Homo sapiens: one gene and its partner. The protein of the gene in region 1 purifies or fractionates together with the protein of each later gene. This does not show direct contact. Each region holds a gene or a part of one and is shown on either strand. Other genes may lie near its edges.

Evidence for each region.
Region 2: the proteins of E2F3 (region 1) and TFDP1 purify together in Homo sapiens (affinity purification with mass spectrometry; 3 studies listed by BioGRID and IntAct, with this or other methods). This does not show direct contact.

Annotation. Positions count from the first base shown.
Region 1 is NC_000006.12:20,488,846-20,492,757, forward strand, and holds part of E2F3 (transcription factor E2F3), read left to right. Parts: intron 1-1,322; coding exon 1,323-1,585; 3' UTR 1,586-3,912.
Region 2 is NC_000013.11:113,629,482-113,633,393, reverse strand, and holds part of TFDP1 (transcription factor Dp-1), read right to left. Parts: exon of another isoform or gene 2,092-3,912; intron 1,772-2,091; coding exon 1,650-1,771; intron 275-1,649; coding exon 109-274; intron 1-108. UniProt on the Homo sapiens protein: Can stimulate E2F-dependent transcription.

The DNA of each region.
Region 1 (3,912 bases):
TAGCTGTGCGTGGTGGCACGTGCCTGTAATCCCTGCTACTCGGGAGGCTGAGGCAGGAGAATCACTTGAACCAGGGAGTCGGAGGTTGCAGTGAGCCGAGATCCGCCACTGCACTCCAGCCTGGTGACAGAGTGAGACTCCATCTCAAAAAAAGAAAAGAAAAGAAAAGAAATCTAACTTCTCCTTCCCGCTCTGCAAAGAGCAAAGGAAGCTCTTTGCAGTATATATTTTTCCATTTCCTAACTTGAGGAGATATATATGCAATTGTTTCCCTTAGTGTCTCCCTATATAGCAGCAAGAATAAGGGTGATTTAAGTGAATAAGTCTGATTTAATACTGAGCAAAAGTACATCACCTGAAATGGTAAAACAAAAGGCCATCTTTCTTCACCACAGAAATCCAAAGTGGATCTGTCTTATTGTATGTATTTTTAGAGATCTTTTTAATAAGCTGGTTGTTCAAAAAAGACTGAGTTAAAATCAGTGAATTCTGCATGTAGTCCCAGCTATAGGGAGGCTGGGGTGGCAGGATCGCTTGAGCCCAGGAGTTCGAGGTTAGAGTGAGCTATGCTTGCCTGTGAATAGCCACTACACTCCAGCGTAGACAACATAGCAAGACGCCGTCTCTTAAAAAAAAAAGTTCTTTTTTCAGTTGGTGAGTTTCTACTAGGAAGCCAACTTTTCAGTATGTATATATTGTTTTGTTTTGATTTTCTTAAAACAATGACTAGATAGCAGAGAGAAGTTTTTGAACTTGTTATCCTCTCATCATTGAAGTTATTTGCATTCTTGTTTATTGACAGTAGTTATTTGAAAAATGAGTGAGTAGACTAGGGCCAAAGAAAGATGGCCAGGCATGGTGGCTCACACCTGTAATTTCAGCACTTTGGGAGGCCAAGGAAGACAGATCACTTGAGCCCAGGAGTTCGAGACCAGACTGGGCAACATGGCAAAACCCTGTCTCTACAAAAAAAGATTAACCAGGCATGGTGGCTCACACCTGGAGTCCCAGCTACTTGGGAGGCTGAGGTGGGAGGGTCCCTTGAACCCAGAAGTTCAAGACTGCAGTGAGTCATGATCACACCACTGCACTCCAGCCAAGAGAATAAGACCCTGTCTCAAAAATTAAAAGGGGGACGGGGGTGGCAAGGAACTTTTTTGTACCTGTTAGCATAAAAGGTGATCTGCATCATAAAGTCGTCTCATTGTCATTATTTGCGGAAGGTACATGCTTTTTTCTAACAGCAACATATACATTCTTCCAGAAAAATTCATTTGATTTTTCTAACTTATTTTTTGTTTCCATCAATGTTTTCTTTTCAGACTTGGCTTCAACCAACTCAGGACATAGCGATTGCTCAGTTTCTATGGGAAACCTTTCTCCTCTGGCCTCCCCAGCCAACCTCTTACAGCAGACTGAGGACCAAATTCCTTCCAACCTAGAAGGACCGTTTGTGAACTTACTGCCTCCCCTGCTGCAAGAGGACTATCTCCTGAGCCTCGGGGAGGAGGAAGGCATCAGCGATCTCTTCGATGCTTACGATTTGGAAAAGCTCCCACTGGTGGAAGACTTCATGTGTAGTTGATTATGCTTCGTGTGAACTCTCCTTAAAAACCGATATTTTTTTATCATGGAACCAGAACATCTGTCATGCAGTGTTGTCCCTTCCTACCTTCTTCCTCCAAGAGAGTATCATGAAGTAAACTACAAACTTCAGAAGAAAGCTGACATTTTAATGAATTTTTTAAAAAATTAATAAACAAATTGTCTAAACGCACAGTTGCAGGCTCCCTTGGGAAAGCCCTGCTTTGCTCCAGGCTCCAAGATCTCCTGGCTAAGTCAGCAAGTGAGAAAATGTGCAATCAGGTGTCTCTCACCCCGAATTGTCCTTCCTCCTTCCTCCCCGGATTGGCTTGCTGTGCCTGACGGATGGGCTGTAGAATGGGGTCTGGCCACCTGGCCTGCTGGGAAACAGCAATCTTCCTTAATAGCATTTCAAGCCGTGCCTTCTCCGCAGAATGCATGTCTTTGAGGTCTGCTAATATGGAATGGAACTGCAGCAAATGCAAACTTGAAGTCATGCAAAAGTATGAAATGGATTTCTTCAGCTCTTCTTAGGAATATTTAAATTACTGTCATAATTCAGTTTAAGCTATGAACTGTGTGTCCCAGTAGGAGGTCAAGAAAACCTCCACAGCCTTCTGGATGAAGAACCTGTTTTCAAATATACTTGTTGCAGATACAGAAGACTAGTAGAGTTCTGCCACTCTAAGCTGTTGTGGATTTTCCTGTCTCCATGAACCACTCCCATTCCCCCGTCCCCAATGTGTTTGTGAGTTTCCAGTTGATTTGTAGCAAATGCCTACTTAGTTCTTTGTGGATTGTTCTAGACTTTTAATTTTTTTAGCTGCCATTTAAGCATTCCTGTGGCACCCATCACCATTTCAATTTAATTGTTTACTTTGAAGCGGTTTTTGCAAATTCATATTACTTAAGCAGAGGGAGAGAACCTCTACTGATCAGAGCATCTAAACCTGTGTGATCTAAGGTTTATCAGCCTCTGCAAGGAGCTTTGTCCCATCGTGCTTCCATTCCCAGGAGGGGGAGCTTGGAGCGAGTCAGTCCTGGGGCTTGCTGACATGGGTGGCCCATTGGAAAGGAGAACCAGGTCAGATGATGTAACAGCCCCAAGGAGCAGCAGGCATGGGTCCCTCCATCCTTGGGCTTCCCGGGCCCCTGTGACAGGGGAAAGGGCTCTCTTACACCGCACTCAGGGAGACCACTTCTCAGGATGGGGTCAGATGGAGAGACCTCTAGGGAGAAAGACATCCCCATTGTGTGAGTGGCATTTCCTTAAGCTGGCAGGAACAGGGAGCAGCCCTGTGTCGGGGGCTGGAATAGTTCTGGCCAGACCCCGTTCCCCTTCCTCTATGAAGGAATAAGTTGGACCAAGGGAAGTCGGGGACGTAAAAAATGAAGCAAAACAATGCCAGGGTGTCTCCCGCTTTACTCTTCAGGAATGGTGTCCCAAGTTGGAGGCTTTGTGTCAGCTGCAAATCCTACCAGTTATGTCCAAGAATGGCTTTCCCTCGGGCAGGTGGCAGCGGCCATCTCCCACTGGGAATATGGCGTAGTATCTCCGGTCCATTCCTTGGATGCTAAGGACTGCGGGAATGAGGGAGTCAGATAAAGAACAAACCTCGAAACGAACAGTTAAATTGAAATGCTATGTGCCTGACCCAATGGTAGGCACATAGTAGGCACTCAACTCATATGTTTAATTGAATTGAAAATATCCCTTAGGAAAAAAAAAAAACACACAAAAAACCACAAGAGCCCCAGCCAGTTTACTCCAGGTAGATTTCCACAATATGCAAAGTGGTGGTGGGGTCAAGACAGATGACACCAGCACTTTAAACTCTTTGTGTGGGTATGCGTGGGTGTATGTTTGGGAAGAAAAACAAAGGTGCAGACTATCTTCCTTTTTTTCTTCTTCAGCCTCCATCCCTGGCCTCCTCCCCTCACACACACTGGACTTGGTACAAAATGTCGGTGTGGTCCTAGATGAAGCATTGGGGTGGGGGAGGGAGAGGGAGCTTTGTGTTAAGTGCCTACTGGAAATGCACTGTGGGGTTTTTTCCTGTATGGGAAACCATTTATGCCAAGCTTTTCCCCATTTCCCATATTTATCTCATCTGGTTAGCTGCCTCTGCTTCCAGCTTTGTGTAATTCTCTTTGCCAGCTGCACAAAGCTGATTTTTTCCAAAGTCTAAAGACTGAGCTCACCTGGCTAGATTGTTGTGTGTTTTGTTGAATTTTTTCATAATGTAATGCCGTATTTATTGTTTTTAAAATGAAAGGAATACTAATAAGTCTTAAAAGTTCCTTCATGCATAAGATTTTTTTCCAGTT
Region 2 (3,912 bases), on another chromosome or scaffold:
CTTGGCATTTTCTGTATGGTTTTAACTGTTCCCGATATTAAAAGAGCGAAACGTACCACACCGCTGGGCTCCGCCACCCCAGCCTCTCGGCCCCCGGCACACACTTACTGACTCGTTTGGTAAGATGTGGTTGTCGGCAGCACTGAACTCCGCAACCAGCTCGTCTGCCACTTCGTTGTAGGAAGTGGTCCCTTTCCTCTGCACCTTCTCGCAGACCTTCATGGAGAAATGCCGTAGGCCCTTGCCATTCTTCTCTCCTTTCCTGTTGCGCTTCCTTCAAAATACAAAGGAAAAGAGAAGCGACTGTCAGCCCTCCTGAGGATCAGCCTGAATCGAGGAATGCTTTTACCTGAGAGCTCTAATGAGCTGCACAAAAAGGGGCCACGTCCCACGGGCGCAGCAGATCCAACACGTGAGCAGGCCAGGACCCCCTAGCCCCAGCCCCCAGGCCCAGTGGTCCTGCAGGTCAGAAAGCGAGTGTCTCCCCAGCAGGCTGCACCTCTAACCTTCCAAGCGTCAGGGAAAACGGGAGGCGTCCCCAGGACCCAAATCAGCATATGGGAGATGTGCCGGTACACCAAGCACCACTTTTCTTTTTGTTGTTGTTTTTTCTTTTTTGAGACGGAGTCTCGCTCTGTCGTGGGCTGGAGTGCGGTGGCGCCATCTCGGCTCACTGCAACCTCCACCTCCTGGGTTCAAGCGATTCTCCTGCCTCAGCCTCCCGAGTAGCTGGGATTACAGGCACGTGCCACCACATCTGGCTAATTTTTTTGTATTTTTAATAGAGACGGGGTTGCACCACGTTGGCCAGGATGGTCTCAATCTCTTGAACTCGTGATCTGCTGGCCTCGGCCTCTAGGATTACAGGCGTGAGCCCCAAGCACCACTTTTCTAAAGAGGGCAGCCAGAATCAGGAACTATGGGACGTTTCAGTGTAAATTTGGGAATTCTTAGGACTAATTTCAGCAGGCTGTAATTTCATACAGCTTGGGCTGTGACAGCCGCTTGACAACAGGTGCAAAGCACTAAGTGTGCTTCAGGTCGAGGGAAAGCCCAACTCTGTACACTCTGGTCAGTCCCCACATGGCGGGAAAGGCCACCTGAGGTTCCTAGCTGGTGAAGCTTTGGGCACCAACACAGGCAGGCTTTTGCAGCTTTGCGTGTGTGTGTTTTTAAGGAAAGACACAGCTCATCAGATCTTGCTTTAGTGGAAGGAGCAGCTCTGGCGGGACCACCCGCGGGGGCCGTAACCCCAGGGGCAGTAGAGGCTGAATTCAGGGGCAGTGGGTGAAATCCATCCCACATGCTCCCAGCACAGACGAGGGAAAGTCTCCGAGGTCCTGTGGCGAGTACGAGGCCAGCTTCTCCCCGTCTTGGCCAAGAGCTGCCAGCCCTTCAGAGAGCACCCACTACACCAGACACAAAGCGGGGTGGGCGGTGCCCAGCCCGACTTCTCCATGACCGAGGCAGTGCGCCTCGGCTGCACACCTGTGCAGGCCACGATGATGGGTGAGTGTGATTCGGAGGCTGGCGTCAACGCGCGTGGGAGCCCCATCGCACGACTGTGTGACACACGTGGCCCAGGAGAACGTGGAGGTGCGAACCGCAAGCAGTCCTACAACTCTAAGGGTCCAGAGGGAAGTGCTCACCCGGCAGACCAAGGTGAGGAGTCGGAAGGCTGGTTCTGAGAGGCAAAGTGAGTGCTGGGGGTGTGTGGGCTTCCTACCACCAGGGTGTTTGACGCTGCCGGTCTCTGAGGCGTACCAATTACCTACAGTCGAAAAAGACAATTCAGACAGTCAGTCCCCTCCCACACGGCGAGGGTGCCATGCCCACCATCTGTTCGCTATCCGCAGCCACTGCTGAATTTCCTTAACCACAGTGAGCAGCCATGACGGAGCAGGAAAAACGTCCAGCGGTGGACGCTTTTGTCACGGTGACGGCATCACCCCACCGGTTCTGAATGTGGCTCATCTTCCTCTTGTCAGTCACAGGCATCTTCTCCAATTAGACAAAAGCAACAAGAAACTTCGGACGACCCAAGCAAGCAAGAACAGGACAGGGCAGAGCGTGACCCCCAAACCGCACACAAGGCGCTAACGGTCAAGTTTAATGAAGGGGGCGGCACAGAATTCCACACAGGGCACTTGAGCACGCTTCCATTTTTCCCTTCACCCTTTTACTTCCTTTTAGTGATATGGATGAGGATGAAATTGTATCCTTCTGTGGTACTAAAAAGAGGCCTGAAACAAACCAAAAACAGCTCTCAAAAGACAAAAGCACAGGCAGGGTGACAGCAGCTGCTCCTCCAGCCCAGCAGGGTGACAGCCATCACCTGGTAACCCTGTGCCCTGGGGCCCTGTCTGGGGGAACCCCTGCACCCACAACGGCGTCAGGCAAGGAGGGAGGGCCACCAGCACTGGGGGCGGAAGGTAGGGGCTCCACACGCCCCTGGGGCTCACACACCTGGGCCCCTCTGGGGGGAACCACCAGAGGCAACGCCAGTGTGGACACTGACCCACCCGCCCCACCCCACAGCACACCTGAGGGTGTCAACAACTGTCTCTCCCTTCAGGGACATGCTGGCTGGTCTGACTCTTGACAAGGTCTTACCACTTTAGTTCCAACAATGAATGTTCGAGTGTGAATACCTGGACACCCTCATACAGGCAAATACAACTCTGACTTTTCAAAGATCTTGTGGCACGACTCTATCTAAACTGGAAACACTATTTCTCAGTAAATGTTAAATCATTCAATTCACCACAAATCAAAGTGCCTCAGCGATTATACTGCTTGTATGGACATGCAGTTTCCGTTAAAGGGATTGGAGCTGGACACCTGTATGCTGGCGGGGGGGCTTCATGTGGCCGATGCCCTGAGCTACTCTAAGCTGGGCCCCCCCAGCTCCCCTTCTTACGGGGATAAATGCATCACCTGCGGTGGCCCTGGGAGCAGCTGACGGGGACACTTTCCAATTATCCCTAGGCCAGATCACCTGTCAGCTCCGGAGAAGAAAAACATTTCAAGGACTGATCTTTTCATTGACACTCATCTCTCCGATGATCAGAGACTCATCAGAGTGCGGCCTTCTGTGGATCACCAGGCCATGAAATCAAACAAGTGAATTTTCTGCAAAATGAAGCCATACAAAAGATAAATCTCCTGGGCGTGGATAAATGTCCTGTGAAACTTGTTTTGTTCAATACGCGTGTGTGTGTGTGTGTGTGTGTGTGTGCTGCTGGGGCACTGGGCCACGTGGGAGATCCAAACAGCTGACAAAAGGACCCTGCCACTCAGGCTGCCTGAGAGCGCGCTGGCCCCGCACGGCTTCCTACGTTGAGTTCAGCAGATGCCATTCTCCGGGAGTTGATGTCAGACTGAGAACCCGCCAGCTCCACGCCAGGCAGTGCTGGCTGGCTCCGCGCATACCACACGCACAGGTACAGGGGGCTGGAGAATCCCACACACGATTCTAACCCACCTCATGGGTCCACTCCCTTCCCCAGGAATCCCAGGACCACGCAAGGCACTGGATCTTGGCCCCAAAACAGATGCCGTCACCGTGCCGCTGTCCTCCAGGCAGGAGCAAACCTACTCACAAAGAGTGGACTTACAACGAGGAACTGACTTACAACGAGGAACTTACAAGGAACATCCCGATAAACCCGCATGAGCTGAAAATACCCTAAGTCGAAATGCACGTCATCCACCTCTCCTACCACACATCACAGCTTAGCCAGCCTACCTTACACGTGCTCAGATCACGCATGTTAGCCCAGTCGGGCAGAAGCATCTCACACAAAGCCCACTCTAGTCAAGTGTGGGTATCCCAGGAGACCCACTGAATACCACACTCAAAATGAAAAATAGGACGGTCGTATGGGCAGTGGAAGCAGTTTCCACTGAATG